Linked DNA regions of Homo sapiens: regions 1 and 3 are each linked to region 2. The links come from fine-mapping of genetic effects on gene expression. A gene starts in region 2. Each other region holds a variant in brackets. All regions are shown on one strand. Distances are from middle to middle. Region 1 has its middle 48 kb from the start of ABHD17C. Region 2 holds the start of ABHD17C (abhydrolase domain containing 17C, depalmitoylase). Region 3 overlaps ABHD17C (abhydrolase domain containing 17C, depalmitoylase).

What was found. PIP is the estimated chance that this variant, and not a neighbour inherited with it, causes the effect. A credible set is the group of variants that fine-mapping cannot tell apart.
Region 1: its variant is the best candidate, but not a certain one, in a credible set for the expression of ABHD17C in monocytes after Pam3CSK4 (Quach 2016, PIP 0.65).
Region 3: its variant is the best candidate, but not a certain one, in a credible set for the expression of ABHD17C in whole blood (TOPMed, PIP 0.53).

What each region holds. Positions count from the first base shown.
Region 1 is chr15:80,641,804-80,652,174 of GRCh38, reverse strand. No RefSeq gene overlaps it. Among named protein-coding and RNA genes, the nearest start is that of ABHD17C, 48 kb to the left of the region's middle. The variant T/G (reference allele first, on the strand shown) is at 4,401.
Region 2 is chr15:80,690,376-80,700,746 of GRCh38, reverse strand. ABHD17C (abhydrolase domain containing 17C, depalmitoylase) reads right to left here and starts at 5,437. Exons shown (of 3, transcript NM_021214.2): 1 at 4,728-5,437. The coding sequence starts at 5,317. RefSeq lists silencers at 4,614-4,673, 5,094-5,143, 5,234-5,653, 5,674-5,783, 5,804-5,963 and 1 more and an enhancer at 4,834-4,903.
Region 3 is chr15:80,749,204-80,759,574 of GRCh38, reverse strand. It overlaps ABHD17C (abhydrolase domain containing 17C, depalmitoylase), which reads right to left. Exons shown (of 3, transcript NM_021214.2): 2 at 9,883-10,062; 3 at 3,954-5,424. The coding sequence ends at 5,205. Among named protein-coding and RNA genes, the nearest start is that of CEMIP, 25 kb to the left of the region's middle. RefSeq lists an enhancer at 9,320-10,371. The variant T/C (reference allele first, on the strand shown) is at 5,791.

The DNA of each region.
Region 1 (10,371 bases), 49 kb after region 2:
TGAAATTAGAAATTTATTAGAATGACTTATCAGCAGATGGGACATAGCAGGAAATAAGATTAGTATACTTGGAGACAAGTCAAGAAAATTACTAGAACTGAAGTACAGAGAGGGGAATATAGTGAAAAAGTTTCTCTTGTCACTCTGTTTCCCAAATAGTACCAGTCTATTAATTAAAATCTCCAGTCTCATTAATAATTAGAATTTTGCACTTCATTCAAAGTTGAATGTTTTTACTTCCCTAGCTTTGACCTATGTAGGCCTGTAGTCAAAAGAAAATTCTTTCTTTTTCTTCACCTAGTTCTTCTCATGCACCCTACTAACCAGTTTCTGACTCTCCAAAGTTAGAACAGGGCAGAATGTGGAGGAGAAAGTGGACAGAAATTTCTTTCTTTCTTTTTTAGGCAGGGTCTTGCTCTGTGCCCAGGCTGGAGTGCAGTGGTACAATTGTAGCTCACTACAGTCTCAATCTCCTGACGTCAAGACATCCTCCCACTTCAGCCTCCCGAGTAGCTGGGACTACAGGTGTGCACCATGGTGCAGGGCCAGGAACTTTTAAAGTTGACTACTATAGTGAGTTGGCTTGTGTTTCCTGGACTTGGCAGTGTTGAAAGTTAACTCTTTCTCTCCCATGGGACTTTAAAAGGTTCTTCGAAAACTCCTCCACTTCCTGTTTTGGGGCTGATACCTTTTCCTCTGGCTGGCTGCTTACAGCGCCTTCCTTAGCCCCTGAGAATCTTGTGGTCCAGCCCCACAGCTTCCAAGAAGGTCCTGAACTGGTTTGTTCTTCCTCCCTCCACTAGAAATACGCACCTATTCTTTGTCTCATCAAAATCTGGGAGGGCAGTCAAATCCCAAAGTCTGTTCCCAGAGCAACAAGACACTCTTTCCTGAACTAGATATCTCAGGTGCAAATCAGTCACCAGTCTGTTTGTTTCTGAAAGTTCAGGAGACACATGCTGTGATTTCCAGTGGTCTGATTGGAGCCCATATTCTTAGGCTTGAGGTGAGGAGCTTAAGAAAACTGGAGGCTCTCCAACCAATGCCATCTCTCCAAATGTTCCGTAGGCTTGAGGTAGGTGGTTGGCTGAGGGTCACAAAATCTTTTGCAAATCCAGGCAGAGGTCTTGCATCTCACTTTGGCTTGTTTGGGGACTGTGTAACAAAGGGTTAACTCACAGGCTTATGATGTTCAACCCCTGCATGTTCCAAAGAAAGGACCAGCTTTTGTATACCTGAAGTCTTGGACGACATCAGATGACCTAATGTTAGTAATGTGATTTATGATGCAGGTCTTAGACCGCACTGTGTTTGACCTCAGGGGAGGCCAGAGACTGAATAACAAAACCCTGGACACCAAAACTCTGATGAGCTTCTGTGGTTGGCCGTACTTTGTGTGTACCACCACCACACGTTGTCCCTGGGAGAATTAAGTACTCTCTGTACAACTCCTCTAGGAGAGGACAGTGGGAAGCTCATACCCGGTCTGTCCTGGACTCTGCCTAAGGCACCGTTTTCCTTTGCCTTTTCCTTCTTTCCTTTCTTTCTCTCTCTCTTTTTTTTCTTTCTCTCTTTTTTTTTTTTTTTTTTTTTTTTTGAGACAGAGTCTCACCCTGTCACCCAGGCTGGAGTGCAATGGCACGATCTCAGCTCACTACAACCTCTGCCTCCCAGGTGCAAGCGATTCTCCTGCCTCAGCCTCCTGAGTAGCTGGGATCACAGGTGCCCGCCAGCATGCCTGGCTAATTCTTTTGTATTTTAGTAGAGATGGGGTTTCACCATGTTGGCCAGGCTGGTCTTGAACTCCTGACCTCATGATCTGCCCGTCTTGGCCTCCCAAAGTGCTGGGATTACAGGCATGAGCCACTGAGCCTGGCCTCCTTTGCCATTTTCATCTGTATTCTTTCACTCTAATAAACTGAGCCTGTAAGTATCACAGCTTTTCTGAGTTCTACAAGTTTCTACCAAATCATTGAACTTGAGAGTAGTCTTGGGAATCCTCCACGCTGGAGCCAAAACAGAAACAAAAATAATGATTTTTGTAGCATACTGCTGCAATATTATTTTTAAAAACTCAAACCTTCAGAAAATTACAGAAGTTAATATAACACCAATGTATCCATTGCCTACAATTAATAAATACATTTTATCATATTTGTTTCAGTTCCTCCTTTATTTTCTTTTTTTGGTTAAGAAATAAAACACTGGGAGGCAGAGGTGGGAGGATCACTTGAGCCTAGGACTTTGAGACCAGCCTAGGCAACATAGTGAGACCTCATCTCTACAAAAAAATAAAAAAAAATTTGTGGGGTGTGGTTGTGCCTGCCAGTAATTCCAGCAGCTAGACAGGAGGCTGAGGTGGGAGAATTGCTTGAGCCCGGGAGGTCAAAGCTGCAGTGAGCCATGATGGCGCCACTGCCCTCCAGCCTGGGTGACAGAGCGATATCCTGTCTCAAAAAAAAAAAAAAAAAAAAAAAAAGAAAGAAAAGAAGAAAAGAGAAGAAATAAAACATAGTACATAATAGACACATATCAAGTTTCCTTTGAACCCCACCCAGTGCTGGTCCCTGTGGCAGTCACTCCTCTGAGATTGGTCAATATTCTTCCTTTTGGGGTTTTGATACTATTTTCCTGTGTGTGTGTGTGTGTGTTTTTTTTTTTTTTTTTTTTTTTTTTTTTGAGATGGAGTCTCATTCTCTTGCCTAGGCTGGAGTGTGGTGGCATGATCTCGGCTCACTGCAGCCTCCACCTCCTGGGTTCAAGTGATTCTCCTGCCTCAGCCTCCTGAGTAGCTAGAATTACAGGTGTGCACAAACATGCCCAGCTAATTTTTGTATTTTTAGTAGAGATCGGGGGGTTTCACCATATTGGCCAGGCTGGTCCCCAACTCCTGACCTCAAGTGATCCGTCTGCCTTGGCTTCCCAAAGTGCTGGGATTACAGGCGTGAGCCACTGTGCCCAGCATTCCTGTGTGTGTTTATATCCCTTTATGGATTTGCATGTATCCTAGCACTGGGACCTTGCCATCTTCTCTGCATCGCTCCAGTTTTGACAAACACATTGGTGAAGTGTGCATACTTGACTCGATTTCAACCCAACAAATGTGGATTGGGCAGTCTTTGCTAGGTGCCAGGCTTTGTGCCAAGTATTGTGGGCAAGTAGTGTAAGTTCACTACTCTCATGGACCCCTGACCTGGTGACTATGATAGTGGCTTGCTGAACTCAGTACATATGTTCTGAATGGCCTTTCTAAATTCTCACTATTCCCTCAGCACTTGAGGATTCTTCCCTAAGTCAGACCTAGACATGATGAGGGAGAATATCAGGAAGAGACCAAGGCCACAGTCAGGCCAAGTATTTTTCGGGGCTTCTGGTTCCTCTCTTCAGAGTACTGACCCAGTATCCTGGGCTGGTTTAGACTCTCTGAGGGTTGTGAGCTTTGCAGCTCATCAATAAGAGGGAGAATAATGCTCCCCTTCTAGACTCAGTCAGGCGGGTTTATTAAGTTACTTGTTTCCTGCATATCATGCTCAGCAATCAAGCCCTACTCTGTATCATAGCTTGATCAGCCCTCACTATATCTATACAGAGAGAGGTAGTATAGATGGGACCCACTCTATTGGCCATTGACTTACCTTGATGAATGATCTGTCTTTCTAGACAACGGTTTCTAAACCCTGAAGATAAAGTGGCTTTTTTTTTTTTACAGGTTTTATTTACTTTATTCAGAAACTAATCAGATTGTGTTTTGTTAAGTGGAGTTTTTTGTTGTTGTTGTTGTTTTTTGTTTTTTGTTTTTTTTTTTTTTAGTATTTATTGATCATTCTTGGGTGTTTCTCGTAGAGGGGGATTTGGCAGGGTCATAGGACAATAGTGGAGGGAAGGTAAGCAGATAAACATGTGAACAAAGGTCTCTGGCTTTCCTAGGCAGAGGGCCCTGCCGCCTTCCGCAGTGTTTGTGTCCCTGGGTACTTGAGATTAGGGAGTGGTGATGACCCTTAACGAGCATGCTGCCTTCAAGCATCTGTTTAACAAAGCACATCTTGCACCGCCCTTAATCCATTTAACCCTGAGTGGACACAGCACATGTTTCAGAGAGCACGGGGTTGGGGGTAAGGTTATAGATTAACAGCATCCCAAGGCAGAAGAATTTTTCTTAGTACAGAACAAAATGGAGTCTCCTATGCCTACTTCTTTCCACACAGACACAGTAACAATCCGATCTCTCTTTCTTTTCCCCACACTTCCCCCCTTTCTATTCGACAAAACCGCCATCGTCATCATGGCCCGCTCTTAATGAGCTGTTGGGTACACCTCCCAGACGGGGTGGCGGCCGGGCAGAGGGGCTCCTCACTTCCCAGACGGGGCGGCCCGGCAGAGGCGCCCCTCACCTCCCGGAC[T/G]GGGCGCCTGGCCGGGCGGAGTCTGCCACCCACCTCCAGGATGGGGCGGCTGGCCGGGCGGGGGCTGCCCCCCACCTCCTGGATGGGGTGGCTGCCGGGCGGAGATGTTCCTCCCCTCCCAGACAGGGCAGCTGCCGGGCGGAGGGGCTCCTCACTTCCCAGACGGGGCGGCCGGTCAGAGACACTCCTCACCTCCCAGACGGGGTGGCGGCGGGGCAGAGGCGCTCCCCACATCCCAGACGATGGGCGGCCGGGCAGAGACGCTCCTCACTTCCTAGACGGGATGACGGCCTGGAAGAGGTGCTCCTCACTTCCCAGACTGGGCGGCCGGGAGGAGGGGCTCCTCACATCCCAGATGATGGGCGGCCGGGCAGAGATGCTCCTCACTTCTTAGACGGGGTGGCGGCCGGGTAGAGGCTGCAATCTCGGCACTTTGGGAGGCCAAGGCAGGCGGCTGGGAGGTGGAGGTTGTAGCGAGCCGAGATCACGCCACTGCACTCCAGCCTGGGCAACATTGAGCACTGAGTGAGCGAGATTCTGTGTGCAATCCCGGCACCTCGGGAGGCCGAGGCTGGCCGATAAAGTGGCTTTAAAGGGCTAGGTGACCTTTCAAGTTCCTTAAAGCCCAACTGTAGACCTTTAAAATTCTGAGAACCTCAAGACAACAACGACAACAATAAATTCCATGTACCTCTACAGTCAGGGAAAGATGGAGATACTACTCACACAGAATATTCTGTTTCAGGATTGAAGTTCTTCTCTGGATTCCTAGGAATGTTGTTTTCACAATGTGAGGGAAAAACTGCATGGATGCAAGAGTATTCCAGAATGATTATCTCGGTGTGACTGTGAGCAAATTCAGTTCCGTTTTCAACTAACTTTCATTTGGTGACCACTTAGCGCCTCCTGCGTTCCTGGCGGTTTGCTGGTAGAATGGAAAATCAGAAAGGTATCAGGTTCAAAGGGAGGCACAGGTGGAGTGAGCAGGAGCCCACAGGTAGAAATGTCTTCCAGGTTGGAAGGATCAAAGAAGTCTTCATGGAGAACGTGGCATAGTGAATTGAATCCTTTCCTACAGAGATATTTGTTTTGTTTTTACTTAATATGGATTTATTGAGAAATTATGTCATGCCACACACTATGCAATGCAATGGCCCTGGATATAAGAATGAATAAGATACAAAGTCAGGTCTTTGCCTTCAAGGAGATCCCACACAAGCACCATCATGATAGCATGTGACAGAGGGGAATGGAGGGTGCTATAACTAGACGAGAGGCTTGTGAAGGTCTCCAGGAGAAAGGTGCAGGGCTGAACTGGTACCAAATAGATTTATAGGCATGATCAAGGCAGATAATAAGTGGGAAGGCTTTTTTCTTCTTCTTCTTTTTTGCAATGGTGATGGCATGGCAAAGACATAGTAGGGGAGACAGCCCAGAGCACCTGGACAGTGGTAAGTGATCCAGTACCTCTGAAGCAGAATGCATGAGGATGGAAAGCGACTGCATGAACAGGGCCCTGTTTGTAAAGAGCCGAGTGATCAATGAATGCAGATGGACATAAATTCATGTTCAGGTGTAGTGGACCAAATGGCACAGAGTATTAACATAAATAAAATAAAAAATGGGTAAAAATGGCAGCCAATACCCCAGAAACTCATAAGGTGTAAACATTGGGAGCCATGTATTTCTAGCATGACAACCGTTCCTAACATGTGATTCTTAACAGCTCATCTTTTGAAAAAAGAGAAAGGAAATGCGATTTATCATCTATTAAACAATTGGATTTTCCATGTTCCCCTAAAGTGGAGTTTACTTCTCTCCCAGAAAACCACAATCCACAGAGGAGGAGAATAAATGAGACATAAATATAAATATATCCCCCTGAAGGGCAGTCAGTAGACAAAAGGCTACTTTAGGAGATGTGCCAGTTGATGTCACAGTGAAGTCAGATAAAATTACTCATCACTATTCTGTTAACCGAAAAAAAAAATAAATGAGAGGAAACCCAGAGAAGGTCGTGAAAACTGTGTCAATTACAAATTACTCCAGGCAAAGCCACCACAGCAGACACCTTCTGCTTAAGCTATAGTGAGTAAACAGAGGAAATGTTCTTCGGGAAGCTGTTCTTTCTTTGCTCATCCTCTGAGCTCCCTCTGGGTGATGGTGCTTTCTGACCACATCCTCAGCCCAGCCCAGAATTATAGAGCAGAACAACATCTTGGGGGTGCAGCTCACCTCCCAACCAATGCCTTCTCCAGAGGCTGCCACCTTGCCAACTTGTGTTCTTTGGGTTTTTTTTTCCACTCTGTCACCCAGGCTAGAGTACAGTGGTGCAATGTGGGCTCACTGCAACCTCCGCCTCCAAGGTTCAAGCGATTCTCCTGCCTCAGCCTCCCGAGTAGCTGGGATTACAGGCACGCACCACCAGGCCCAGCTAATTTTAGTATTTTTCGTAGAGATGGGGTTTCACCATGTTGGTCAGGCTGGTCTCGAACTCCTGGCCTCAAATGAACCACCCACCTTGGCCTCTCAAAGTGCTGGGATTATAGGCATGAGCCACCATGCCTGGTCTCCCAGCCTCTGTTCTGAATCGAATTTGAGCGCCTTGAGTTCTGCGCCTCATCCCCCACAGCCCTTGCAAGAATAATTATTTTCTATAGGCCTCTGTTTATTGCACATTCTCCTCCGCAGGCCCCTGCAGTTCTTGTAGCCTTTCCCTTTCAGAGCCTGCCTGAGTGGGCATCCTGCCCTCGGGAGGCCTCTCTTATCACCCAGTAAGCTCACCCCAAAGGCCACTCATGTCCCTTGTCACACTCCTCTGAACTCACTCCAGTTTTTCTATGGTTAAAAAAGGGCATGAACCTCCTCATAGGGTCGTGGTGAGGACACTTGATGGAAAGCATTGGCACAGAGTTTGGCACACAGAAAGTATTTAGGCAGGAAGTGGTTCCTCACGCCTGTAATCCCAGCACTTTGGGAGGCTGAGGCAGAAGGATCGCTTGTGCTCAGGAGTTCAAGACCAGCCTTGGCAATGTAGTGAGACCACCCTCTCTATAAAAAAATAAAAAATTAGCCAGGCTTGGTGATGCACTTGGGAGGCTGAGGCGGGAGGATTGCTCGAGCCCAGGAGTTGAAGCCTGCAGTGAGCCATGGTTGTGTACTGCACTCCAGCCCAAAAGACCTGTCTTTTATGAGACCCTGTCTTAAAAAAAGAAAAGAAAAGAGAGAAAGTGCTTAGTATTATTATTTTCATATTCTTAGTCCTTTGCCATAGTTAGCACAGGACCAAACCCCTAAGACACCTGCTCTTCTCTGAGGCAATGCAGGTGATTGAGCGCCTGCACGCTCAAGCACAGGCGGCAGTGAGATGGTGTTCCTGCCCTCCAGGAGTCCATGGTCTATAGAAGGCAAAAGATGAATGGGATAAAGATCTGAAGAGAGTTCAAAGAAAGGGTGGGTGGTAGAAACTCGGGGGAAGGAAGACAGCCCTCACTCCTGGCCCAACCCCACTGCTGGTGCAGCTCTCTCGGAGCCTTGCACCCTCACGGGAACCCGGAGGCTGCCTGCCGGTCCCTGAGCAGCCTTAATGTGCAGGGACTGATGGGCCGTGTTCTCAGGAGCATCTTAACTGGGCTAAACTCACATGCTTCAGGTTTGGTTTTAGTCACAGCGTGATGGAGGATTTCCCAGTGCTGGGTCTTATGGTCTCCTGGACAGAGAGGCCGGAGGCATCACCTCCCTGAACAAAAGCATCTGCCCAGATGCAGTGCAGACTCATCACTCTTTCAAATACTTTCCATGAAACAATGCTGATCCCTTCATTCCTGATCTCAGCTTGCTGAGTCCTTTGTGGTACCTCAGTGGACACACTTAGAGGAGGAAGAGGAGATGGGAGAGGTGAGGCATATGTGGCCATAGCCACAGACTCAGTATTACTGGCACTTGTGTAACTGCAAGCAGATGATGTTCGGCTTACATCAGGATGACTGGTGGCTCACAGGGCTTTCCTGGGAGTGAAAACCCTCTGTTTCCTGCGCACACGGTGAGGGTGGTATAAATGTAGAAAGAGTCAGCACATGACCAAATTAAAAAATTGTAAAAGGATAATGTCAGGAAATGGTGGTGATGGTTGCACAACATTGCGAATGTACTTCATGCCACTGAAATAGACACTTCAAAATAAAGTGGTCAATTTAACGTTATGCATATTTCACCACAATTAAAAAGAAAAAGATGATCTCTGGTGACCATGAGTCAGCCTCCGGGCAGTATCCAGCCCCTTCCCAGTGAAGATGCTGCTCATGAAGTGAGGCAACTTCTGCTTCTGGGGCCAGCCGGCTCTGGTCCTCACCACCTGTGTCACCTGGGCAAACTTCTTAACTGCTTGGAGTCCCTGTTTCTGTATGTGTAAAAGTGAAGGGATGTTGGGTGACAAGATGAGATCATTTAAAATTCTTACAGTACCTGGCCAGGAGCGGTGGCTTATGCCTGGAATCTCAGCAGTTTGGGAGGCTGAAGTGGGCAGATCACTTGAGGCCAGGGCTTCAAGACCAGCCTGGCCAACATGGTGAAATCCCATCACTACTAAAAATATAAAAATTAACCAGCCATGGTGGCACATGCCTGTAGTCCCAGCTACTCGGGAGGCTGAAGCAGGAGAATTACTGGAACCCAGGAGGCAGAGGTTGCAGTGAGCTGAGATCGCACCATTGAACTCCAGACTGGCAACAAGAGTGAAACTACATCTCAAAAAATAAAAATTAAAAATAAAATAAAATAAAATTCTCACAGTACCTGGATGCCCAGCTATCCCAATTTGCCTGGAATGGAAAGATTCCTGGGATATGAGGCCATCAGTGCTAAACCCATACTAATCCAGACAAACTGGGACAGCTGGTCACCTTAGCAGTGCCTGATGTAGTAGATGATCAATAATGGCAGTTACTGGTACATATGACTGCCATTTCTACTACCATAAAGAGAAGCTAACATCCGGGGGCTTACAATTTGCCTGACCCTATTCCACGTATTTTGCTTAAATTAGCTCATTTAATCTTCATAAGAAGTATGACACAGGTAATTATTATCTCAGTTTTGCAGAGGAGGAAACCAAGCAGGCAGGATCTGAATGCAGGCAGTGTGATTCTACGTGACAAAATCTTAATCAATATGCTATACCCTCTTCCTCTAAATTTATTAAGTACTATGTTCCAAGCACTGTTCTAAGTGCCTGAACTATGTTATTTCATTTCCTTCTTTTTTTTTTTTTTTTTTTTTTTTTGAGACGGAGTCTCGCTCTGTTGCCCAGGCTGGAGTGCTGGAGTGCAGTGGAGAGATTTCGGCTGACTGCAAGCTCCGCCTCCCGGGTTCACGCCATTCTCCTGCCTCAGCCTCCCGAGCAGCTGGGACTACAGGCGCCCGCCATCATGCCCTGCTAATTTTTTTGTATTTTTAGTAGAGACGGGGTTTCACTGTGTTAGCCATGTTGGTCTCGATTTCCTGACCTCATGATCCGCCTGCCTCGGCCTCCCAAAGTGCTAGGATTACAGGCGTGAGCCACCGCGCCTGGCCTATTTCATGTATTTCTTATAATGACTCTTATGACTATTACAGATGAAGAAGAAAGGAAGGCTTATTTGGGAGCGTGGAATGGAATTCATCAAGAACTAACTGCACAATTGCTGTGCCTATTATATAAAAATAGGGTGACCAACTTATCCTGGGTTTTCAGGAGGGCTCCCTGAAAGCCCTATGCCCAGGGAACCCACCTCAGTCCTGAGCAAACCAGGGCTGTTACTCACCCTATGTACACCGTAGCAGGTCCAGGGAAACTAAAGAACCCAAACAGATCATTCCAACAAGAGGAGCTATAATTAGCAAACAAAAGAACTGATACATGTTCAACCCTTCTACTTATCAAGGAAATACAGAAAATATAACAATTCTATGTTTAACAAATGAATAAACATTT
Region 2 (10,371 bases):
AAAATTTTTTGTAGAGATGGGGGTCCCAACTATGTTGCCCAGGCTGGTCTTGAACTCCTGGGCTCAAGTGATCCTCCTGCCTAGGCCTCCCAAATTGCTGGGTTTACAGGTATGAGCCGCCACACCCAGCCTATGTTTAATGGTTTACTGGTCAAATGAAGGAATAAATGAAATATTAAGTCTTTTGTAATTTGCCTTTTGTACTAAAGGCACTGAAGAGTCTTATTTATCTTCTTCCCTCTGCATCTGCTTTCTCTGACTGTATCAACGTTTCTCTGCCCACATTACCAAACGCCTCTCTCCTCCACAGCTTTTGTCACCAGCATCAAAAAGAAGCATCAAAGACGACTTCTGTGGATGGCATCAGCAGACACCTAAGTTACAAATGTCCAAACAGGAGAGTCCCACTCTCCTGTTCCTCCAGATTAAAATATTTCAGCTAAAATACTCTGCCTCCTTTACACCTCATTCTTCGGGCTATTTGCTTGTTTGGGTTTATAGTTTCAAATCAGTCTGATTCACTGTCTCTTGAGTCATGGTGCCACTTGTGCACACACAGTCTAAAACTGTTCAGCCCTAAGAGGATCCCCTGGAAGGATGTGTGTTGAGGAGGCTGAATCTGCCTACTCCCACCTTAACCAATAGGCAGCCATTCCTGCACAGATTAATCACTTTACTTCCCCAACTCAAGTGACAACAATACACTCCAATAAGGTGACCCTGATTTTCAGTGTCTTTTCCACAGATATGTCTAAGTGATTTCAATTCATTCCCTCACTTGTTTGTATTCACAACATACTTATATTTCTTACCAGTAATGCAAACGTAAAACAAGTTTTGATCTTGGGGCTCTCCATCATGCTCAATGAGCTCTCCTCATTGTTCATGCCACTCTTCCTGGCTCCTTCAAACCCTGCCTCTCCGCTACACTCTTTTCAGTAACTTTTCAAGAGTTTAAAATAATCATCTATTGGCCAAACGGCAACAACCACCTTTCTTACCAAATCTACTTCCTCCTGAAACCCTTACTCTGGATTACGTGCCCACCTTAATACTCATCATCTGGGGGGATTCACTGTCTTTATCCATGCATGAGGGGTCTGCACACTGGTAGTATTTACATCTGTTTCAAGGGCTGGACAGCTCACTCTAGCATGCGCAGGAGCTGGCACAAATAGGTAATGGATAAAAGATGTAGAGACATACAAAGGATGGGTTAGTATTGTTCTTCTCTTCAATACAGACATTTCAGTGTCACAAGAACACCAATACAATGAATACAAAGTGGATGAGGCCTCAAGCCAATACATCTGGCCCTTTTTTTTTTGTCTATGGTTGTACCCATGGATATTAAACCCCGAAGATAAAATAAGATCCAAGTACTTGTAAGAGTCCAACTTAGGAAAAATTAACTTTACCCCACTTATTTATGGGGCGCCCATTATGTGCAATTCGTTCAACAAATACCAATGACTACCTATTATTTTAAGACATTTTGCCAACTGTCAGGAATAGAGAAGACATAGTGTCCCTGCCCTCAGAGATCTTCCAATTTAGTGGAGATACAGTTAAATAACAGATACAGCAACACTGTGATAACTCAAGCAAAGGGGCTGAGTACCAGGTGCACAGGGAACACAAAGGGTCTCCTAATCCAATTAAGATCCAGTCAGGATCCATTGTTCCTAGCACAGGAGAAGGGCAGATACAAAAGACGATGTGAGCAGAAGAGTGGGGCAAAGTCCTGAGTGTGGGGCTTTGGGGCCTGCAGGGCACTGCACCTTACAGTCCTCCTGGGGGAATAATCTAAGTACAGAGATGAAGATGACTCAGAACAAGGCAAGCTCTCCAATCAGTGTCCTGGGGAGTGTGGTTAACTAGGAGGGCAGGAAAGATAAAGATTCCCAAAGAAGACATGGGGGATGGCTGGTGGAAAACAGAGTCTGACCCAGTAACAGAAGAATGGACACATGGGATGGAAGGCATTCCTGCCATGGCACTGACATGAATTAAGCTGTAAAAGAAGAGAGAATAGCATAAGAACTTGCTCCAGGCAAGTAAGAGCAGAAGAACCATACTGAACAGCAAGAGGAAAGTGGTTGAGGGGCTGATTGGCTTCAGAATTAGGTAACTCTTATGTCAGCAGAATAACCAAGACACACAAATGCACCTCCTGAAGAATCTGATAAATATGCTTACCGTGGCAATGGTGCCCTCGCAAGAGTACTAAACTGGTAGTCAAGAGACCTACTGCTGATTTGCCGCCAGTCTATCCTCCTGTCAGATGAGCTGGGTGAACGTGTGCAGTGTCCATACATGAGTTGGGAAATAAATTTAGCAATTCACAACCATCTTTTTTTTTCTTTTTTATAAAAGTGAAATAGGCCAGGCGCGGTGGCTCACGCCTGTAATCCCAGCACTTTGGGAGTCCCAGGTGGGCGGATTATGAGGTCAGGAGGTCGAGACCATCCTGGCTAACACGGTGAAACCCCGTCTCTACTAAAAATACAAAAAATTAGCCGGACGCGGTGGCGGGCGCCTGTAGTCCCAGCTACTCGGGAGGCTGAGGTAGGAGAATGGCGTGAACCCGGGAGGTGGAGCTTACAGTGAGCCAAGATGGCGCCACTGCACTCCAGCCTGGGCGACAGAGCAAGACTCCGTCTCAAAAAAAAAAAAAAAAAAAAAGTGAAATAAAACAACATATTCTGCTATGTGTGCTGCCCATAGAAAAATTACTGTTTTGTGAAGCATTGGCTTCAGGTATGTGGATACAGACGTGTATGTGTGCTTGATCAAAACGTAAAATGTGTTTCTTACTGTGAGGTTACAGTCAAAACAGTTTGAAAAGCACAAGACATGAGGATCTATAAGGTTCCTTCAAATTCTAAGCTTCGCATGCAGCCTTCAAATTCTAACCTTTTTTACAGGTGAATAAATTAACTTAGATATGAGTTCTGGTATAACATTAAATAAATCATGGGCAATCTTTAGACATACCATCAGATAATTCAAAGTTATCCGAAACAATTACCCTTAATTCAACTGATACACTATCAGATAATTCAACATTATCCAAAACAACGCCCCTTAATTCAACTAAATATGACCAAAAAAAAAAAAGTTTCCAGGAAATAACTACACTCCACGTAAGCTGTAACACAGACACACCTGTATATTTGGGGCAAAGGGTGAGCCATGTGAAAGGCTTTCATTGTAATGTGGACATGCACACACAGAAGCAATGTTCTATGGAAACTCTTCAATTAAAAAATCTACTCAAGGTAGGATTTTCATGTTTCAAATTTTAAAGATCTAATGCCAACCTTATTTTTAATACCTTTGCCAACAGCAAATTCTAGCAAGCTATAGACTGTGTGTGACACATACTTTTGAAACCCTTTACTGGAACAGGTGGCTTTTAACTACTTACAGACTCTGACCCAATGCATCTGCATATGATACATTCTCATCTGCCTAAGCCACTTTCGAAAAGCTATAATCCCAATGAGGGCATCCCCTTCAGGACTTCAGGAGGGCATAAACATGCAACATAGAGCAAATATTAAGTACTTCCCTGTTGGACAAGCCATTTTCCCAGACAGGCAAGGAGTCACTTAGGAACATATGCGTGAGTACGAATGAAAAAAAAAAATCATTAACGTTGGTGATGTGCATAAGCAAACAGGTTTTAGATAAAAACTATAGAAGGGTCCATGGCGACAATAATGCCCGGTGTACTTCCTCTGGGGACTCTTTCATCTGAAGAAATCAAATCTCATCATAGACATGGCCTCAGGTTATTTTCACCATCACTGCTATGAGGCAGGTCGGAAAGGTCACAGATACCCAAACTGGAGCACAAACAGGTAACCTGACCTGCACATGTATAAGACTTTTGTCTAATAGTGAATAAAAGTCAGGTTTTTGGTTTGCTTGTTATAAAACAACCAGGTCTAACCCCTAAACCATGCCCCCAGTTTGTGCCTGGCTCACAGATGGCCCACCCTAAACACTTTTCAGTCCTTCTGTGAATGCTAATTTAAGGTCAGAGATTTCCCAGCCCCTGCAAGTTTCAAACTTATCCTGGACTGTTATGGAGGCCGTGTGGAAGGTGCCAGGCCCACAGCTACCAGCTAACTTCCTGCCCCACAGTGCCACTACTTTGCCCCACCAGGAGGCAAACTCCCCGCTCCACCTGACGCTCCAGCTGTTTCCAAGGTTGCCCAGACATTGTCCTGCCCGCACTTTACAACCAGAAAGTCTTTTAGAGGCCATCCTGTCTCGCCCACTGACTTTACAGGGAAGGAAACTGAGTCTAGAAACCCATGTGCCTTGCCCAAGGTCACTTCAGCTCGTACAAACGAAACTCGAACCAAGTTGTTTCTTTCTGCCCGGTACTTAAGCACCCACACTCTGCCACTCGCGGTGACCGGAGCCACAAAAGACCCAGCCGGTGGGCCGGCGACACACAGGCGAGCCAAAGCAGGCAAAATTCTCTGAGTCCGAGCTCTCCAGGAACCTGAAGGCTGGCGCGGTTTTTGGAGAGGGTGGGAGCAAGCCAGGGTGGGACAAGAAAAGCGAATTTACGGCGGCCAAGGGGCTCTCCGCTGGCCCTCAGCCCCGGAGGAGGGGCCCCTCTCCTGGCAGGCCGCCCCAGGGGCCCCAAGAGACCCCCACCCCGCCTCCCCACAGCTGGAAGTCAGGCCTGGCGACCCCGGCAGGCTCACCGGGTGCGCAGCGCCTGCCACGCGGCGTCGATGTCGGCGTAGAGGTTCTTCTCGGAGGGCTTGCCCGAGCTGACGCCGTATCCCGAGTAGTCGTAGGAGAAGATGTTGCAGTTGATGCGGGAGCCGAGGCCAATGTAGAAGCTGCACATCTGGCCCAGGTCCACGGCGTTGCCGTGCGAGAAGAGCAGCGTGTAGCGGCTGGAGGGCGCGCAGCGCACGAACATGCAGCCGAGCCGGTTGTCCCGGGCCGTGCGCGAGAAGAAGACCTCGACGGCGTCCAGCTCGCGCTGCGAGTACTGCCAGTCGGCGCGCTCGCTGAGGTGCAGGCTGCACGCACCGGGCCCCGCGCCCGCGCCCTCCTCGGGCTGCTGCGGTGCCGGCTGGGCCGCGGCGGCGGCGGCGGTAGCCTGGGCCGGGGCCGGGGCGGACGCGCCGGCGCCGCGCTGCTCCGGCGCCAGCACCGTGTAGGTGGGCTCGGGCGGCAGGAAGGCCAGCTTGGCGGCGATGCGGCTCGGGCAGGGCGGGCAGCAGAAGAGCCAGCACAGCTCACCCAGCGAGAAGCCGTTCATCCTGGGGCCTGGCTCGGGCATCGGGACGGCCTGGTGCCCGCCGCCGGCCCGGCTGGCTGGCTGGCTGGCTGGCCCGGGAGGACGGAGGACGGACGCGCGGCGAGGGAGCTGGCAGGCGAGCGCGGAGGGCGGCTGCAGCCCGCCCGCCCGGCGGCAGGAGGAGGCGGAGGCGGAGGAGGGCAGGAGGCGGGGCCGGCCCGGCGGGCGCGGCGCTCGGAGCCCGGGCGGGTCAGCGGCGGCCCCGGAACCCAGGCGAGGCGCGGGCGGCCCGGGCCCGCGCGCGGCACACAAAGCCGGCGGCGGCGTCCATGGCCGGCTCGTGCGCGCCGCCCCCCGCTCCCGTTCCCGCTCCCGCACGCCCGCCGCCGCCGCCGCCGCCGCCGCCACTTCCGGGTTACCGCGCGGCGGCGCCGCCGCTGGGACGCGGCGCAGAGCCGGGCATCGGGGCGGGGCGCTGCGGGCAAGGGCGCGGGCACCTTCCCCGGCCTGGGAAGCACCTTCTCGACCTGCGGCCGACGGGGGCTTCCAGGCGGCTCCGGGGCCCGGAGAAGCTGGGTGCCGGGGCTGGGGGCTCTGCGCCCGGACAGCTGGGCCGATCTGCAGAGGGGACCCTGGAGGGGGTGCATGTGTCCCGGGGTGGACCGCTCCCCTCCCCTCCCCCTGGGATTCCCTCCCCCAAATCCAGGTTTCTCCCGTGGATGGAGGTTCTTGGGAGTCTACTGAAAAGGAAACTAAGGGGTGGACAAGAGTTGGAATGTGCCCGAAATATTTGGCTCTCGTGTGTGCTGCTTTCTGAACTGGCTCAGTACCAAAAGTTCTCAGCACCGTAAGGGGTACCGGGGTTGTGGGATAGGGTGGTCATCAGTGTGTTTCTTATTAGGAGAGGCTGTTTCTGTATAGGTAGCAACAGCGTTTCCTTTCTAAGGGCATGGTTTTACCCTTAGTACATTTCTGTATCTATAAAAGTCAGCTGTTAGAACAGGAGGGTACTGTATTTAGCAACAAACCATGTTGAGGTTGTCATTTCTAATCCCACGTGTGGCAGATTTTCCGGTAGTAAGTATATACTAGGTATCGTTTACAGTGTTTGTGTCTCTAGAGTTGTTTTGGGTCCAGGATTTTTCAGTGGTCTTAGTCATGAACGATTCTTATACTGCTTTAAATCTACTGTAATCTTGGCAGCCACCTTTACATGATTTTTCAAATATAACTCTCGGTGCCTTGAAACTGTGCTCTGGTGCCAGTTTCCACAGAGCCTTCTATACTTCCTTTTTCCCGCCTGATTTGGCAGCTGAAGAATTCCCTTTCAGGAACTGACAGGAGATACCCTTCCTGGACTGCCAGCAGGGCAGCTAGAGACTGGGAGGTTGGCACAATCCCTACGCTGGGTCTGTTGTTTTAACTCACAGATGTCCTGAGAATTTTACCTTTCGTTGTGACTTTCCACAGGACGAATATTTTGAGCACCGTCATCTAAATGAATTGCCGATACTGATTTCATTAACCTTCAGGACCTCGCTTTTAATTTTTTCTTTTTTAAGAGACAGGGTCTTACTGTATTGTCCAGGCTGGACTCCCAACTCCTGGGCTCAAATGACCCTCCGGCCTGCCTCCCAAGTAGCTAGGACTACCGGCACATGCCACCTTGCCCAGCTAGGACCTGGGTTTTAAAAGGCCATTTCTTCACTAAAACAATTTTACTTGTTTTTGAACTATTCAAACTTGATTTTTAAAAACCTGGTAACAAAGCCTGTCCAGATTGCATATTTGAAGTCTGTTTTGAAGGTTTTCACACTTGGTGAAACTCTTCACATAAAGCCCAATTCTAGCTTTGCAGGTTTGCATTTCCTTTTTTTTTTTTTTTTTTTTAAAAAAAGAATTTTTCTGCGAAAATCCTTTAAAAAGAAAAAAAAGCTTTATACAGCTGGGCACAGTGACTCACGCCTGTAATCCCACCACTTTGGGAGGCTGAGGAGGGTGGATCACTTCAAGTCAGAAGTTCAAGACCAGCCTGGCCAACATAATGAAACTCCGTCTCTACTGAAAATACAAAAATTAGCCGGCCATGGTGGCGTGCACCTACAATCCCGGCTACTCAGGAGGCTGAGGCACGAGAATCACTTGAAGCTAGGAGGCAGAGGTTACGGTGAGCCGAGATCATGCCACTGCACTCCAGCCTGGGTGACAGAGTGAGACTATGTCTCAAAAAAATAAAAAGGCTTTCTAACTTGCTACACATTGGTATACTTTGGTCACTTTATTGTATTCAGCATTTATGTATGTAATGTTTTTTGTGCTCACAGCATCCACTGTGTTAGGTGCTACAGCTACCAAGGTGAGTAAGATAGTCCCTGCTCTCAGATACCTTACAGTCTAATTAGGGCATCAGCAGAAGATTCAAAACAGTTTTTATGTGCCTTTAAAAAAAATCAAGTCCTCATAAAAGCTAAGAAGATGGTCTTGCGTCCTGATTCAGTGGTGATATTTCTATGGGGAGCTAAGGTTATAGTCGAGTGCATTAGTCCCTAATCTAATTCAGAACAAGAATCAAACTTTGGGAACTGAGATGAAAGGGTATCTAACAGCCCCCTAGTCAGTCTTTCTCAGATACCACTCCTCTCACCTGTCCTTTATAAGAATTGAATAGCCCTTAGTTCATGAAAGGGGGGAATGATGAGAGTCTCAAGTACTCGTCTTCTGTGCTGCTGATGGAAAAGACAGTCTTTATATTTCAGATGGCCTGGCAGCAGTGTTAGCATTGTTAGAAAAATCTAAAAGCTAGATACTTGTTTATTTATACCTGGTCTCATTCCACAAGGGATTTGTGGAGTGTGATTCAGTATAATATAAATACATAAGCAAATAAATAAAAGCCTGGCTTTTGTTTTCATTCTATTACAAGGCTACACAGAGGTGGGCTGAAAGAGCATTTATTCCCCAGGAAAACATGTTGGTTCAGGTTTGTGTAAATATTCAGTTGAGACCCTAAAATTATATGCCGTAGAGTGAAGCTACCAAGCCTTTCTTATCTCATGCCACATATAGCCAGTGGTAGAGTTTCTGTAGCCCACTGACATGAGACGTGCTGCCCAGGGGATAAGAGGTTAAAGATCTCAGCACGTCTCTAACATCTAACATCTTTAACAACAAATGTGTTAGTGTGCCTTGTCATGTTGGTTTGGAAACTTTAACATACAGCACATAAAGAATGCATTTGCCCTATAAAATGTGAAAATTGGGGATTACCAGCTGTCCACTTTGACCTTAAAGCAGCAGTCTCCAACCATTGTGGCACCAGGGACTGGTTTCATGGAAGGCAATTTTTTTCCATGAAAATCCTAGTTAGATTCTCATAAGGAGTGCGCAATCTAGATCCCTCGTATGCACTGTTCACAATAGGGTTTGCACTCCTATGAGAAGCGAATGCTGCCGCTGATTTGACAGGAGGCGGAACTCAGGCAGTAATGCTCACCCACCAGCTACCCACGTCCTGCTATGTGGCCCAGTTCCTAACAGGCCACTGACCAGTACAGGTCCACGGCCCGGGGTTTGGGGACCTCTGCCTTAAATTTCTATGTCATTCTGATCATCCTAGTAGAGAAAGATCTAACTTTGAGTTCAGGTCAGCAAACATATTTACTCTGCTAGGTACTTATCATGAGTCAGTCACTGAGTTGACTTGGGAATGTAAAGGTGGCTAATGCACAGCTCCTCCTGCCCTCAACAAGTGCATTGTATGATCTGTCTCTTAGGTAACTCTGTATCCTGCCAAGCCAGCCAGTATTGATGAACTAAACAATATTCCACATAACTAAATACCCTGATCTCTATTACTTAATATTGGCCCTTTACACACTGAATTTTGGCTTCCACACTAGTCAGCTGGATGTGGAGTTGCTCAAGACCACTTTTATTTGTAAAAGTAGAACCAACTTTTGACCATAAGAGGATACTCATGCTTAAAAACAGAATCTGGTTGTCTTGATGGAATCTAAGGTAATGTTGCCCCATTGTACATTTTTTTAAAAATTTGGGACTGGATACTCAGTGAAATCAGGGATCATGTGTATTTTGTTCATCGTTTCCCCTATGACTGGCATAGAGAAGATGCTCAGTAAATGTTAATTAAATTGCTAAATTAAAGAATGAGAGGCCAGGTGCAGGGGTTCCCACCTGTAATCCCAGCACTTCGGGAGGCTGAGGCAAGCAGATTGCTCGAGTTCAGGAGTTTGAGACCAGCCTGGGCAACGTGGCAAAACCCCATCTCTATAAAAAATACAAAAAGAAATTAGCCAGGTGTGGTGGTGCACTCCTGTAGTCTTAGCTACTCCAGAGGCTGAGATGGGAGGATCACTTGAGCCCAGGAGGTCGAGGCTGTAAAGAGGTGTCATCATGCCACTGTACTTCAGCCTTGGTGATAGATCAAGACCCTGTCTCAAAAATAATAATAAAATAAAAGAATGAATGAGTGATTTAGTGAATGCTTCCAAAATACCAAGCCTGTTCCTTCTGGTTTGGGCAGTATTATTGGAGTTATGGGCTTTGAAGAAGATACAAAGTGGTCCAGAGCCAAGGCCAGCATCACACTGTGTCCTCTGGCTAAGGAATTGTGACATTCTCTCCATATTTATTACCAATAGAGCTCAAATTTTGTTATGGTAACAATGTACCCAGTTAAGATAGTCACTCAACCTCCCCTGCCATCAGGATGGCCACATGACAGGATTCTGTCCAATAGGCCCTAACTGGAGAATACTGGGGGATCTTCTGGAGAGACTTTTAACAGAGCCAGGCTCAGCTGTAATGTTTCCCTTCACTTTTTTTTTGTTGTTGTTCCTGCCTGGGTTGCAGGCATTGTTTTTTGAGCAACAGCAGCCATCTTGCAAGCATGAGGGTAAATTTCACAGCTGAAGATGGTGGTGCAGAAAGATAGTCTATTTCCTTCATGGTTTAATAGCTGCCCCGATCTCGCCTGTATTTGTCGAGGCTTCTTATGTGAAAAAACTAAGTCTTTTTATGTCATTGTAGTTGGTTTATTTGTTACCTGTAACCTAATGCAGCATTAACTGATTCAG
Region 3 (10,371 bases), 59 kb before region 2:
ATCTATTTTGGAAGCACTGATATATTTAAGTAGTGAGACCTCTTATCCATAAACATGGTATATCTCTAATTTAGGTCTTCTTTAATGTCTTTCAAAAATAACTTTTTCTCCTGAATGTGTCTTGTGCATGGTGTGTTAGTCTCAGGTATTTAATGTTTTTTAATACTATTGTAAGTGGCATTTTTCTTTTCTATGGCTTATTAAATATTTTTCCTGATTTATGGAAATAAGGTAGATTTTTGTATATTGATTTTGTGTCTAGCAACCTAAACTCTTATTAAATCTAATAATTTATAGATACTTTCAGGTTTTCTACATAGACAATCATAACCTGAATAGTTTTTTTCATTTATTTTTATAATTTTTATTAAGGTATACTTTACATATAAAATCTATCCATTTTATATGTACATTTGAATGATTTTTGACAAGTTTAGTGAGTTGTGCAACCATCACAATAGTTTGGATTTAGAGCATATTCACTGCCTCTTCTTTTCCATGTCTTATATCTTTTTACCTTTTTGACCCTACTGAACTTGCTAGAATTTTTCGTGTAACTTTGAAGAGAGTGAGGGTAGTGGATATTATCTTTAATTTCCAATCTAAAGTAGCATAAGGCTTCTGATGTTTTGCCTCTTGGTATAATGCTTATTATGTTTTGGGATAATCTCTCTATATAAAAGTTTCCCCCTATTCCTTGTTTAATAAGTGTTTTGGTTTTTTTAACTTAAATGGGACATTGAGTTCCAGAAAATGTTTTCTCTGTGTCTATTGAAATGATCCTACGAATTTGCCCTAAAAGAAGATAGTTTCCAAGTAGATCTCCTGCCTTGGAGGGCGCTCTAGGTTTTGTTCACTGCTCTGAGATTCACCAGACTGGAAAACCAGTGTTCAGATTAAACGAGTCCAGCAAATTCCTTCAAAGAGAAAACTAGTTTCAGTGCTTCTCCTTCCTGTCAGTTCTTATCTTTATTTTGCATTTGGCCTGCACACAGGTCTTATTTTCTTGACAGTTCATGCATCTGTTTAGATTTTTACCATTTCATTCAGTAACTGTTTTCAGTGGAAGGGGTGGTTCACATCCCAGGACCATCACAAAGCAGAAAACAGAAGTCACGAGATCTTCTAGGTTCATTATTGCACTGAGTATGTTTTCTGTGTTACTATTCTAAGTGAGGTACTATTGTAAGTGAGGTCTTTTGGCCATGATATTTCCTAACTAGTTACTACTAGCAAACAGAAAGTAACATTATCTCCTAATGCTGTGTTTGTATAACTCGAATTTGATCATGCTGTTTGTTCTTTTGATAGAGGATTGATTTTGCAGTATTTTGTTTAGCACTTTTGCCTCTGTATGTGAGCTCCACTTTAGTCTCTTGAGTATGAATGGATGTGCGCATGCACGCACCTTTAGAACTGTTAATATACTATGGAATTATTTCTTAATAGTTTGAAGGAATTTATTCTTATAACTGCCTGGGCCTAGTATACTTTTTGGAAGATAATCTGGTGCTTGCTTTCCCCTAGTTCTTCAAATGTTATCATTTTATTCTCTTTTGAGAGCTTCATCTTAAGTAGCTCTGCTGCCAGTAATACAATTTACAGTGCTTTACAAAGCACAAAATGCCGGGCGTGGAGGCTCACACCTGTAATCCCAGCACTTTGAGGCCGAGGTAGGAGGATCGCTTGAGGCCAGGAGTTTGAGACCAGCCTGGGCAACATGGCGAAACCCTGCCTCTACAAGAAAACATAAAAATTAGCCAGGCACGGTGGCTAATTTGGGAGGCTGAGATGGGAGGATTGGGAGGTTGAGGCTGCAGTGAGCCATAATCACATCACTGCATTCCAGCCTGGGCAACAGAGTGAGACTCTGTGTCGAAAATAAAGCAAAAAATGGACAGTATTTGCATAGCCATGATTTCATTTAATGACTATGTGCCCTACGTGTGGTCAACAAGGGGTAAAAAAAGCATCAGAGGCCCAGAGAAATTAGGGAACGAGGTCAAAATCACTCAGCTTGGATACAAAGACAGATTAGATATGGTCCTAATCCTCCCTCTGAAAAGGCTCACCTGAAAAAGACTAGAACAGACAGACCCTCTTCATGTGTTTGCACTTTCAAGTCCTAGTTCTAAGATAGGGCAGTAGCAGGTACCTATAGAAAGGGGAGCACTGAGAGAGGGGGCATTCAGTTTTCAACTGGAACCCAAGGTGATCCCTCACATTAAGAAGGGATCCTTCTTGTTCTGTGCAGGCTAATACACTTGTGATCATTTCCTGAAGTGATCAAGGCCCCGAAGTCTATAGATTCTATATTTCTCCTCCACACACCAAGAGTCACAGAAATGTTCCCAAAAAGAGTATTTTGACAATTCATTTGCCCTTTCAAACCTTTGATTTTCACATTCAAAATTCAGTCTTGAACAAGAGTGCTAACAGGTTTTTTTTTTGTTTTTTAAACTATAGACTCATTCTATTTTGAGACAGTAGCAATCATTCCATTCTTGTTTTCAAAGGATGCTACAATCATTTAAATTAGGATTTGAGATTCTCATGCGATTATAATGAGTGATCCAAATCTGTATTACTCTGCTTAATTTTAGGGATCATAAAGCATAATAATCATCAACAGAATGAATAATAATACGGTCACAATATCTTGCTCTGAATGTTACTTCTAGGCTTTTAATAGTTATAAACGGATTTCCACAAGCGTAAGGCACGAATTCATATATTAGAAACAATACATATACCTTCTCTATACTTTGCAAGGACTTCAGGTAGCCACTTAATTTTTCCTTCTTGACTAGGGAGAAAGAAATAGTAAGGCACTCAGAAAGGAGACGCATCCTCACTTAGTGGAAACCAAACACCTGGAATCCGGCCCCAGGTCTGAATGGAGAACAGCTCTAGAAAAAGCCTGCAGCTCAGGAGGGGTGTCTCTCAGAAACCAATAGAGGATTTCTCCCTGGGGTTCCCACTGTTACCACACATGCAATTCTCAGAGGAATGCCGTTCCCATGCCAAACCCTGGCAAAAGTTGGAGAAACTTCCCTCCTCAGTTTTGGCAAAGCACGAGCTGCTTCCAGTGGATACAAACCATCCACATCAAGTGACAAAACCAATGAAGCAAAAGGCTTTGCCACCTTAGTTTCTGTTATTGTCAATCTTATCATTTCCCGATATTTGGCTGATGAAAAGAAATTTACTAAATAGTTTAGGAGAAAAAAGGGGGGTAAGGATTACAGAAGATGCAAGCAGCACACAAATAGAATCAGAAATCAGGTCTCTGGCAACCCTGACCCGCTGGTCTCTGGCCCCAAAGGCAGGTCATTGCTTGTGCTTTTTCCTACCTAGGTCTCCCAGACTTTTGGGACAGGCATCACCACTGGAGCTTTGCTGATGCCCCCTCGGGTAAGCCAGCCCCACCCACCTGATTCAAGATCAGGAAGTAGCTGGCATATGCATGCATTCACATGTGCATACTCATGTCTTCACACCTTCCTGACCACCACTTCCTCCTAATGCACCCTTAGGAGAGTGCGTTCCAAGAGTTGAAAACTAGCATCCCTCAGCTGCTCTTTTCTGCTCAGCTGGTCAAAGGGCTGAAAACTATGGAACACACCTGTTTCAGGCTTCCCAACAAAAGAGGCACTGTCCTTCCTCTGAGCCAGGTCACAATGAGGTCACCTTCATCAATTTTGTTTCATAGCCAGAATCCACTGCATCCTCTATTTAGATATCATCTGCACTTTACTGCTATATGCTTTATATCTTGGCTTCTTCCAAAAGTAATCCAAGGCCTTTTATAGAACAAAACCATATACCTTGAGAAAGATGGTGCAGTTTGAAAGCCTCAAGGTTTTCTTCCTACATTACGACAAAAAGTTGTTTTCTTATTCACTATTTTCTTTGATGGAGAGATGAAGAAAAAAACTGCACAAGCCCACACATTCTGATCCATGCATCCTTTATTCCATTACCAACCACTGTGCCGCATCCAAGCAACAGTACACAAACTGGCAATCAACCGCAGTCCAGTTGTACAACGATCTGAGGCTTACAGTACATTTAAGGCTTTTAAATGTGGAAAAAAAAATTAAAACCAAAGAACCCCCAAATCCAAACCCCTAACCAACACAAGTAGTATAGCAATGTTAAGCATCTCCTATTTCTGATGCTTATTTGGCGCAACTTCCAGTGTCAAAACCCAAATAATTCCTAAACTAAAAAGATTAGTTTAGTGAAATTTTAATTACATAAATTCTTCAAAGCATAAACTTGGAATTTTTGTCTTGGAAATGTTATAAAATTTTTAATAGCAAAACATAGGAATAAAAACATATTAACAAAATGTATTCAATCATTTACATTACAAACAAGGAATCTGCAGTTCATTGTTGTAGCCTGACAAAAGAAATCATATCTACCATTAAGAATCTATGCACAATGTGATTGCAAATATGTACAGTACTTTAAAAAAGCCTACAAGGAGGACTTTACAGAAGGAAAGTCAGCTAGGCTCTTTGTTAAACCAACCAGACAATCAAAATAGTAAAACTCTGTTGGCTAGTAATAAATTTACACTTAAAAAAACCCCTAGTTTCTTTTTGTTTAAGAATATTCCAGTTATATTTATATGGTTACAGTTGATGAAGCTGTACACGAGAGTTCCAGTAAATTACCCTTCAGTTCATTTGTCCGGGAAAGATCAGCATGTTAACAAAAAATAATAAAGGAATTTTCACCACACTAGCTTTCCAGTTACACTATCACAGCTTCACAAATGGATTGAACCCATGTATCCAGTGGCAGAAAGAGAGCTGCATGTGAAATACCGAGAACATTGGTGGCAACAGGGCAAGTCCTGCATGAATGTCAGAAATGATGGATAAGGTTGAGAAACAGATGCGAGGCTACTTTATACAGCACTAGAAAATTGTCCCTACATTCAGCTCTCATTCCCATTCCTGCAAGGTAATGAAGCTGGGAATCACGACTGTTCAGTTTAACGTGTTGTGTGAATTAGCAGAACCACCTCTAGATACAAAAGACTGAGATTTCATCAGCTCTTTGATTAGAACACCCTAAAGGTTGGGCACTTCTTCATGGTTATCAAGCCTTTACAGCTACCCAGTTAAAGCATGTGCAAAACAGAGGACTCTTCTGTTCACAGTAAATGAGGTAAGATCAAGTTGTTGTCTTCAGGAATTAGGAAGTTCGTGAGATATGAACTGTTTTAGTCTTTCTAGGTATTGTGCATAAAGCTCTATGTCATTATGCCCAGCCCCTTCAACCCAAAGGGGCTCCACGGCTCGGGGACAGCGCTCGTACATCGCTAGGCCATGGGAGAAATCGATGACCTCATCCTCTGTACCATGAATGACCAACACAGGAGAGGTGACTTTAGATATCTTGTCAATGCTGCAAAACAGAAAGGGGGGAGGCAGAAAGAGGACTCCATTAGTTATGCTCACAGATAATACACATCACATTTAATGATAAGTTAATAATCTCCACAGGCAGGGAAATAACACCGTGGGTTTTTTTTGTTTGTTTTGTTTTGTTTTTAAATTAAGGACTTTATCTTTTAAAGCAGTTTTAGGTTCACAGCATAACTGAGAGGAAGGTACAGAGATTTCCCAGATACCTCCTTGTCCCCACACATGCACAGTCTCCCCAATTATCAATATCCCCTACCACAGCAGTACCTTTGATGAACCTACATTAACATATCATAACAGTTTGGCTTTTTCTTGCTTTATTTTTTTCTGGTAATTTAGTTTTTTT[T/C]CTTAAATCAACTTTGCATTTTAGAATAATTTTGAATTTGCAGGAAAGGTGTAAAGATAATACAGTGTATACAAAAATCAGCCAGGCATGGTGGTGCATGCCTGTAATCTCAGCTACTCGGAAGACCGAGGCAGGAGAATTGCTTGAACTAGGAGTGGGAGGTTGCAGTGAGCTGAGATCGTGCCACTGCACTCCAGCCTGGGCAACAGAGTGAGACTCTGTCTCAAGAAAAAAAAGAAAAGAAAAGAAAACAAAACAAAAAGATAATACAGTGCCCTGACATACTCCTGACCCATTTCCTGTAAGGTTAACATTGTACATTACCGTGATACATCTGTCAAAACTAAAACACCAACGTTGGTGCATTACTATGAACTAAACTCCAGACTTTATTTGGATTTCACTAGTTTTTCCACTAATGTCCTTTTCCTGTTCCAGGATCCAAACAAGAATACCACACTGCAATTGGCTGTTGTGTTTGTTGAAGTATTTTATTAAAGACAGACCTCTTCAGAGCATCAGACTAGCAAACTAGCAACTACTATTTTTTATATATTATCTTTATATTACTTTTAGATTTTTTTATATTTATATATTATTTTTCAAGAGAATTTTAAAAAGGGCCAGAACTTAACATATCAAATGAATGTCTATTTGGAAAGCTGGACACTTAATTTGCTGCCACTCAAGTCTTCAGAATTCTGAAAGCTACCATCAGAATTGACTCAAAGATACACACCCCATTTCATAAAAGCAAGTGCCTTGTTTTAAAAAATAAAAACTGTACTATTTAGCTTGAAAACTTAATGTAATGCCTAGATTTTATTCCAAATGACTTCTCTGCAAAAATCAAATCTACTCTCAAAGGATGAATATTTGAGGATCTTTAAAACAATATGCTTCAGGCTCTGAAAGCATATCCAAAAGAGGAATCCAAAAGACTTTAAGCATTGGTTGAGCTGGGTGTGTAGGCGACTTCTCTGATCGGGATAACAGTCATTTCATCCACAAATAAATCAAGAGAAATGGCTCTCTCTCCATTCTGTCCTGCCAAAGAGCCTCTTGTAGTTTACTTCTCTTTCCATATTTGATCCTAGTCGAAGTTACAAAAGGATACCAATTAGTACTATTTGTGGGAATCTTTTTGTTAAAAGTAACAGCTAACATTTTTTAAACATTTACCATAGCCGGGTGCTTTGCACTTAACCCACAAAATCTCTTTTAATATTTAATGAAACACAGTGAGAGAGGAATGACCACCTCTGTTTTATCAAGGAGGAAACTGAAGCTCAGAGAGATTATTAAATAACAGGAATGAGGTCGTGGAGATAATAAAGAGCTCTAACATCAATTACACATTCCAAAGATCTACAAACAACTGTCATCTAGCCTTTATTAAAAACTCAGGAAGCCGCGGACCACTTCAAGACATCCCAGAAAGATTGCAAAACCTCATCAGCCATGTAATTTGCAAACATCAGAGCCACTGTGGCAGTATTCAATTATGCACTTTAGAAATCTTATTTGGAAACCTGCTTTCCCCCTATATTTAATTTTAAAGTGACTTCCTTTAAGAGAGTTCAATTATACACAATTAAAAAGATATTTACTCAACAGTTACAATGGGCCTGGGACTATGCTCCACGCTGCACAGTTTAGGAGAATCTCTACTGCCTGGAGGGTGTATTTAAAGTTGACTTCCATCATCCGATCCCAAGTGTAAAGGAGGTAAAAGAAAATAAACTATAAATGAAATAATAATCTGGATTCCTTTTCCTTTTGTTTAAATTTGTTTTAATATTAAAAGGAAATGTGCAAGTATCCTCCTTTAAGGAGAGGGACACAGATGATTCTGCCATCTGGCAACAACGGACATATTAAGAAAATGTTTACCAAATTCAAATTCATGATGAAAGTCAATGCAACCATTAATGGTTTGAAATCTATCATATTAATAATTTATGGCATTAAATATGAGGATTTGTCTCCTTTGTTGTCTCCAATCACCAGCCTTTTAAAAAATTTTTTTAAGAGACAGGGTCTTGCTCTGTTGCCCAAGCTGGAGTGCAATAGTGTAATCCTAGCTCACTGCCACCTCAAAGAGATAAAGCTGGGCTTAAGGAATCTTCCCACCCCAGCCTCCTGAGGAGCTGGGACTACAGATGTGTACCACTATGGCTGGCTAACTTGTTAATCTTTTTCTGTAGTGACAGGATCTTGCTGTGGTGTTGCCCAGGTTGGTCTTGTACTCCTGGCCTCAAGTGATACTCCAGCCTTGGCCTCAAAAAGTGCTGGCATTACAGGTGTAAGCCACTGTGCCTGTCCTCTAATTACCGACCTTAATTCAATAAATTACTTAACCTCTCATTTCCTCATCTGTAAAATGAGCACAGTAATTGAACAAACATCTTTTTTTTTTCCTTTGGAGACAGAATCTTGCTCTGTCACCTAGGCTGGAGTGAAGTGGTGCGATCTCGGCTCACTGCAACCTCCGCCTCCTGGGTTCAAGCAATTCTTATGCCTCAGCCTCCCCAGTAGCTGGGATTACAGGTGTGCACCACCACGCTCGTCTAATTATTTTTTTTTTTTGTATTTTTAGTAGAGACGGGGTTTCACCATGTTACCCAGGCTGGTTTTGAACTCCTGAATTCTGGCAATCCACCCTCCTTGGCCTCCCAAAGTACTGGGATTACAGGCGTGAGCAATCACGCCCAGCTGACAAACTTCATAAGACTCTTGTAAAGATGAAGGGGGACCATGAACATGAAATGCATAGCCCGATACCTGCCATACCAGATAAACTCAGATAAGATTAGTTGCTAATTTGTTGTTAATCATTTGCAATTTGTTGAGATGGCTGTATTTTAAGGTATATGCTAATTTAAGAGCCAGGAAAAAAAAAAAACTATTAGTTTTGTTGCCAGGGTAACTCCCCGCATTGCTTCCCACAAACATGCTAAGTATCCGTCTTTCAGCAAACTGGCCTCTCATTACCAATTCAGCACAAATAAGGCCACATTTGAGAGGCACATTAGCCCTACTTAGCATTCCCAGCCACGCCACTATAAATCTGCAGTGCAACTTTCCCATGAAGCCGAATCTCATTGAATCCTGGTACAAACTGCACAAAACTGAAGTTCACCCAAGGTGTTAACAGAAGGTTCCTTTCTGTGAAATAAGACAGTCTGTATAATAGATGTTTATGTAACCAAACGATGATCTTTTATTTTTTTTCCAGCAATAGCAGGATGAAAGCAATTAATGGGTCAATCAAAAACCCTAAAACCGTGTCTTCTTTCTGCTGAGGTTTTTTTATAAAATGGCAACATGAGCTGGGCCAGTCCTGGGGTAACAATCCTAGGCCCCTCCAGCAAGGACTGTGGGAAAAGCATAAGGGGCAAAATATTTTGTATTAAAAATACTTTCCTCATGCAGGCACCTCTGCAGGGGTGAGATCTTCCGGTCAAAGTGGTAGAGCAGAATAGGGGGTGGCAGGTGAGTTTGTTCATTTATACCATTCCTGTGGCTATTTACCGAAGATCAAAGCCTGGCTTGTCGAGTAACTCACTTTGCCTTTATTCTTCTATTTACAAAGATTAACTGAGCATGGTACCTTTTCCCTTACCTGTACTGTCCAACTGAAAAAGTAAGAGAAATTTCCAAACTGTGCTTGCTTGAAGTTTTTGAGTGTCTACACCACTAGTTGCCCCATCACACATATTGTATACAGCTCAAGATTTAACAAGAAGTGTCTCTGAATGAATGAGCGAGTGCTGAACTGTAAGTTCCTTTAGGATGTATGGGTGCTGTTAAAAATCCTGTATATTAGAGCTCAATCAATTAACCCTAGGCGTCAGTATACTCAAGGTCCTTATACATCATCTGGGAGATTTTCACAAGTGAGTCAGGCCTGGGAGGATAAAATCTCTGGACAGTGTGTGTCATATTTGCTCCCACATGCCCTGTGGCACCCAGCACAGGGTCTGACGTATGGCTGCATTCAATAAATATTTACACAGATATTTATGGGAGCATCAGATATAAACACAGTCATTGGCTGACTTACCACTTGTTGGACAAGCATGAACTTACCTGGGGAAAGCATCAAAGCAGTATGTTTTCCTGGTATCCGGAAAAGCCACACGCAAACCAGACATCAGAGGGGAATGGAGAATTACCGCTGCGCATTCATACCTCGAGGCCAAGTCTACCGTGGGGACAGTCCCAATGCTCTGACCATAGAGGATAATGTTCTCGGGACTCACGCCATACCTGGAGAAATCAGAGGTTGTATGCCATTAGCTAAGGTATGAAGAAAGAGAGAAAGGGACAGAGAAACCCGCCTCTTAAACCCATAAAATTCCCACATCCACCAGCTTAAAACCATATCATCTAACTTGTACACTTTAGTTTAAGATGAATGTGAGCTTGACAAAAACAATTGTTAGGGGCCTGTTTTGGTACTAAGTGACTATGATTCTGCCTTCCACAACATTTGCAAAAAACAATAAACATGATATTATTTTTCTGGCTAATTAAATATATGCTTTATAAATTTCATTTCAGTAGCTACAAAGATGG